2 separate regions of the Homo sapiens genome follow, and region 2 is linked to region 1. The links come from fine-mapping of genetic effects on gene expression. Tissue or cell type: prefrontal cortex. Region 1 holds a variant in brackets; the other region holds the start of a gene. All regions are shown on one strand. Distances are between the middles of the regions.

What was found. PIP is the estimated chance that this variant, and not a neighbour inherited with it, causes the effect.
Region 2: it holds the start of AASDH, and the variant in region 1 is fine-mapped to the expression of AASDH in prefrontal cortex (CommonMind, PIP 0.94).

Annotation. Positions count from the first base shown.
Region 1 is chr4:56,465,482-56,468,218 of GRCh38, forward strand. It overlaps SRP72 (signal recognition particle 72), which reads left to right and starts at 2,136. Exons shown (of 19, transcript NM_006947.4): 1 at 2,136-2,263. The coding sequence starts at 2,155. It overlaps LOC124900706 (a long non-coding RNA gene), which reads right to left and starts at 2,077. Exons shown (of 2, transcript XR_007058126.1): 1 at 1,611-2,077. RefSeq lists an enhancer at 1,981-2,190. The variant C/CT (reference allele first, on the strand shown) is at 1,265.
Region 2 is chr4:56,386,423-56,389,181 of GRCh38, forward strand. It overlaps AASDH (aminoadipate-semialdehyde dehydrogenase), which reads right to left and starts at 1,069. Exons shown (of 15, transcript NM_181806.4): 1 at 940-1,069. RefSeq lists enhancers at 487-994, 964-1,333, 995-1,501, 1,364-1,413.

The sequences.
Region 1 (2,737 bases):
GATTTTTACTAATTCACAAGAATTACACCCTCCAGCACCTAGAGTTCAAGCCACCTTTCATGCTCTTTGCATTGTATATACTGGAAGGACCAGACAAAAATATGGCAGGGCACCATATGCCATATCAGGAGCTGGGCAGTTTCTGCCCTCAAGGAACTCAAGATTAGGCAAGGAATGTGAAACAAAAAATGCCAACTATGTGCCAGGCAGTATGCTAGATCCTAGGGATACTGCAGTGAGCAAGGTAAATATGGTTCCTTGGCCTCAGAACTATAGTCCATACAGAGTGAGATAACCCTTAATTATCAGTGCTCAGAAGTGGAGTCCTATAGGGAGTCTCCCAACCTTTTTGGCACCAGGGACCGGTTTCAGGGAAGACAATCTTTCCACAGGAGTTGGACAGCTGGTTTCAGTATGATTCAAGCTCATTACATTTCCCATTAGATTCTCTTAAGGAGTGAGCAACCTAGATCCTTCACATTCCCAGTTCACAATAGGGTTTGAGCTGTGAGAAGCTAATATCACAGCTGATCTGACAGGAGCTCAGGCGGTACTGCTCACTGGCCCACCGATCACCTACTGCTGTGCCGCCCGGTTCCTAACAGGCTGCAGACCAGTACAAGGGTTGGGGACCCCTGTTCTAAGAGGATGCAACCAGAAGGCTGCCCAGTCTGCAAGATCAAATGTTTCCTCAAAGTAACTTTCAACGTATAACCAGAAAGACTGAAAGACAAAAAGTAGTTAGCAAGGCCGGGCACGGTGGCTTACGCCTGTAATCCCTGTACTTTGGGAGGCTGAGAGAGGGCGGATCACTTGAGGTCAGGAGTTTGAGACCAGCTTGGCCAACACAGTGAAACCCCATCTCTACTAAAAATTCAAAAATTAACCGGGCGTGGTGGCTCATGCTACTTGGGAGGCTGAGGCAAAAGAATCGCTTTAACCCAGGAGGTGGAGATTGCAGTGAGGTTCATCCTGGGTCACAGAGCTAGACTACGTCTCAAAAAAAAAAAAAAAAAAAAAAAAAAAAAGCTAGGTTCCTGAGGGACACAGGAAGTAGTAGAAGTTGTAAAGGTCATGACGAGATATGAGTCTGAAGAGCAGGCCATTCAATGAAATACAACATTCACATCAAGTGAATCACTCACATCGTCTTGGTGTGGTGGCTCATGCCTGTAATCCCAGCACTTGGGGAGGCTGTGGTGGGAGGATTGCTTGAGCCCAGGAGTTCCAGACCAGCTTGGGCAACACGGCAAGATCCCCGTCT[C/CT]AAAAAAAAAAAAAAATCACTCACATCAAGTGTACCCAACAGATATCCATTCCCTTCGTACATCTGAACACATCTTGATATTAACGGTCGCAAGCAAACCCTAATATTTTATATCTCTAGAACAAATATAGTATCCCCATTTCACAATCGGGAAAACAGACTCCCAGAAGCTAAGTAACTTGTTTATTGTCAGACATCTAGTGAGTCGCAGAGCCAGGGAACTGACCACGGGCATTTTCACCCCATTACCCTTCCAGCTTATTGCCGACTGCTCCCGAAGGGAGCGAAAAGGACAGGCAAAGGGTTTCACCAAACCCTTTGTAATGGGAGATTCTTGCCTTCTTACCTTTCCTCACGTTTGCTTCTCTGCCAGAATGTCTTCCCGCACTTTCCCCAGAACCCAAGTTCTCCTAATCATCTTTCAAGATCCCTTTCCCTCAACCACAGATGAGCCGTGCCTATTTCTCCTTCAAATGACTCCCTATGGCTTCTAGTTGGTAGTCTTTTATTTACCACCTCATAGTCCTTTTATTTATATCCCATAAATGATCGTCCGGCCCCGCACCGTGGGACCAGGACGCTGCCTCGACCATGGCGGTCTCCTGGAAACAGGCTGCTTTGAGCCGAAACTGGTGACCGTTTCCCAACCCCGTCCAGGAGTCCGACGCCTCTTTTCTCCAGGCCAACTTCAAGTGAGGTGTATCAACTCTATCCGCACAAATTTCTTGCCACGAGAGCAGAAGATTATGATCTCTGATGCTGCCTTAGGGCTGAAGACACTCCCAACTCGGCGACGCTTAGCAATCATCGACTTCCTCCTCCTCTTGGCTGCCTCGGAGATCCTGTTCCGGGGCAGAGGTCTCCCCGCCCCGCCCCTCGTCTCCTCCAAGATGGCGAGCGGCGGCAGCGGGGGGGTGTCAGTACCTGCGCTGTGGAGTGAAGTGAACCGGTATGGCCAGAACGGCGACTTCACGCGCGCTCTCAAGACCGTCAATAAGAGTAAGTGTCGGGGTGGGCACTGGGGCGGGCCCAGGCCGGCTGGAGGATGCGGCCTGTTTCCGGCGCGCGAGACCACCTCGCGCGGGAGGCACGGGAAGGGGAGACCCCCGAAACCCCCCCGTCTATTGTCCGCCCGGCTCGGGCCCTAGCGCCCGGAAGACGCAGGTCTCACTCCTCGGCTTCACCAGGCCAGCCTGGGGTCCCTGGTTGCTTACAGCCACGTGTACTTCTCTTTTTACCCTCCGCGGGAAGCGAGGGAAGGTTTTAAAGAGACCGCAGCTCCCGGAGTCCATTTCAAACTGTTTTCTTATTTGACTCCTTTGCTGCTTTATTTCACAAATATTCCAAAGTGCCTCCTTTTCTTCTTCGTCTTGAGCGCAGTGATCAGGACTCTATTGCTGAGGGAGCTTGTTCTCTTTGGCCGCTAAAGGGGGAGGAACCTGCTTGGGACACGTAGTTTAGAGGCTGGTGCTA
Region 2 (2,759 bases), 79 kb before region 1:
ATTCATTGAATCACAAATAACATTCTCTGCAGTAGAGAATACTAAACTTATTAATGCCCAAATGTTTGAGACCTTAAAAAGGAAAAAAAGGCCGGGCGCGGTGGCTCACGCCTGTAATCCCAGCACTTTGGGAGGCCGAGGCGGGTGGATCATGAGGTCAGGAGATCGAGACCATCCTGGCTAACAAGGTGAAACCCCGTCTCTACTAAAAATACAAAAAATTAGCCGGGCGCGGTGGCGGGCGCCTGTAGTCCCAGCTACTCGGGAGGCTGAGGCAGGAGAATGGCGTCAACCCGGGAAGCGGAGCTTGCAGTGAGCCGAGATTGCGCCACTGCAGTCCGCAGTCCGGCCTGGGCGACAGAGCGAGACTCCGTCTCAAAAAAAAAAAAAAAAAAAAAAAGGAAAAAAAAAAGCAAACTCTGGTAAGCAGATTTTACATGTAAAAGGAATAAATTTACTTGCTACAACTGTAGAAGCTGCTATTTAGTCAACAAAGATCTTAAGAGTGTCAGCAAATTCAATTGCTATGGGGCCTCTCTCTAGGCCACTGGCTGTTTTAAAAATGGATAAATAATCTAGAAACTTTATTTTCCCAATTCCCCGGCTTCTAAATTTACGGTATGCAACGAGTAACAATGCAATTTACAGCTTCCTAAACATTTCTTCATTGCTCTTCGAAACCACTCTAGGGGGTAGCTGAGCGCGGAGCACACTTATTTCCATTTGAATGGAGGGGCGGAGGCTAGTGACGCAGGAGTGTACACACAGGTCAGGGTTAGTCTGCACCACACCAGCACGCCAGACCCCGATGTATCAAATCCGAGGTCAGGCAGTGGTCCTGAAGCTGAGCAAATGTATGTGGAAGCAGGCTCAGGCCTAGCGGCACTTCGCCTCCTTCACACAGACCCCCGCCGGACACCGCGCCCTGCCGCGACTCACTTAGCAAGTCTCGCGGATTAGGTTTGATCGCATTCGGCCCTTTCCCGGATAGCTCGTCGCGGATACTTCTCACAGCGAAGCAGCAGCTCCCAGAAGCCGTAAAGCTATCCCAGAGCGAGGCACCATACGTAAATCTTCCGCGTCGCTACGTGACGTCAGTGCGAGCGACCCCGGGCCGGCTGCGTGGAGCTGGCGCTGCCTCTCCTGAAGCCGAGGCGCTAACTTGAGTGAAGAGGTCTATAGGCTTTTTCACTTTTGGTTATCTGCTCAGGCGCTCCTTGGGGTCGCGCATGGTCTCGGACAGGGTTTGCAAGGACTTCGGAGCTAACCAGTTTGGAGCCATAACCCTTTCGTACTTGCCAAAAAACTCTGGGCAAGACTCTTGAATTTTGAGCCGCAGTATTCTCGTTCATAAGGTGAGAATAAAAACATCACCTAGGGTTGATGTGAAGAGAGATGAAATCATTGTGAAATAGGAGAGTTATTGCTTTCAACCAATGACATTTTCTGGAAACGTGCTGGAGATATGGCTGCAGCAGTGACGCCTGCAAACGACGTTCCTGTCATCATGATGCTGACATTTTAATTGGGAAGCAGATTGAAACGATAACTAAGGAATTTGACAGGAGCATTTAGTAGGACCTGTAAAGAAATTAAAGCAGGTCCGAGGTGGAGTTTTGTAAACTATATGCCTGAATAGAACTTTCTGTTTCCAAGGGAATTGTTACAGTTGGAGACATGTCAATTATTACAATAAGCGTCAAGGGCAATAACAGAGGTGTTTTAAAGCTACTGTCTGGTGGCAGAATAATCGGGATTTTTTTGTTTGGGGGGTTTTAGCCGGGGGAGGGACTGCGAAGACAGCTCTGCATCAAAACAGTACGTGAGAAAAAAGCATAGGACGCTCTCGCAGCCGTAGTTGTTGGTGACAAGAAACTGTGCTTCTAATCTAAGCAAAAAATATCTCCACATGCCAACTATACTTTTCCAAGATGTACCATGGACTACTCAAACTAACACAGCCTTATTTATGTATTTAGGTTGGAAGTGGGCAAAAGTGTATCTTGTCTATGTTTCTATGTTTCTACGTTGGGATGACACCATCATCCACCCAGCCAGACAGTTATCAACCTTCCCACTTTCTTAACCTCTTACATCCGATTAGACCCTATGTCCTCTAGTTCTCAGTCTTGAGACCAGCACCCAGCTGGCTACATCAGAATTGCCGGTGGTGATGTTTTAGAAGATTCCAAATTCCTGGACTCCATCCCCGGAGGTTCATCCCCTAGTTTTCTAGTGAGGGGCCTAGAACCTGCGTTTTTTAAGTGTCATGTTCATCGCCATTACTGCTACTTTAGTTCAGGTCTTCTTGGTCAGCTTTTTCCTAAAACGTTTTCAGTTTTGTTTGCCTCTGATTGACTCTGAATTGCTGCCAAAATGATGTTTTATTATTCCAGTATCATCATCCAACTCTCTGATATTAATGATACCTTTTTTAAAGTTTTTCTTCCCTTGCAGTATCTATTTCCCTCAAGTTTCCTTTTTTTTTCTTCTGTTGATTTTGTGCTCTATCTTTCACATTAGAGGCTTTCCTAGGATGTCTGGTGGTCCTTATCTGCTCATATGTAAGTGGGGGTATATTTAAAAGTTGATTGGAAGCTGTTGAGCCCATGGGACGTTTGTTGAAAATCAAGTGGGAGAGGAGGGGTATGGAGGCTGCGGTATGTCTCAGAATTTAGTACAATTTTCACTTAATTCTCTTTGTTTTAGGTGCCTGATGTCCTCCATTACAGAGACCCCGTTTTACTCCTGAGCAATAA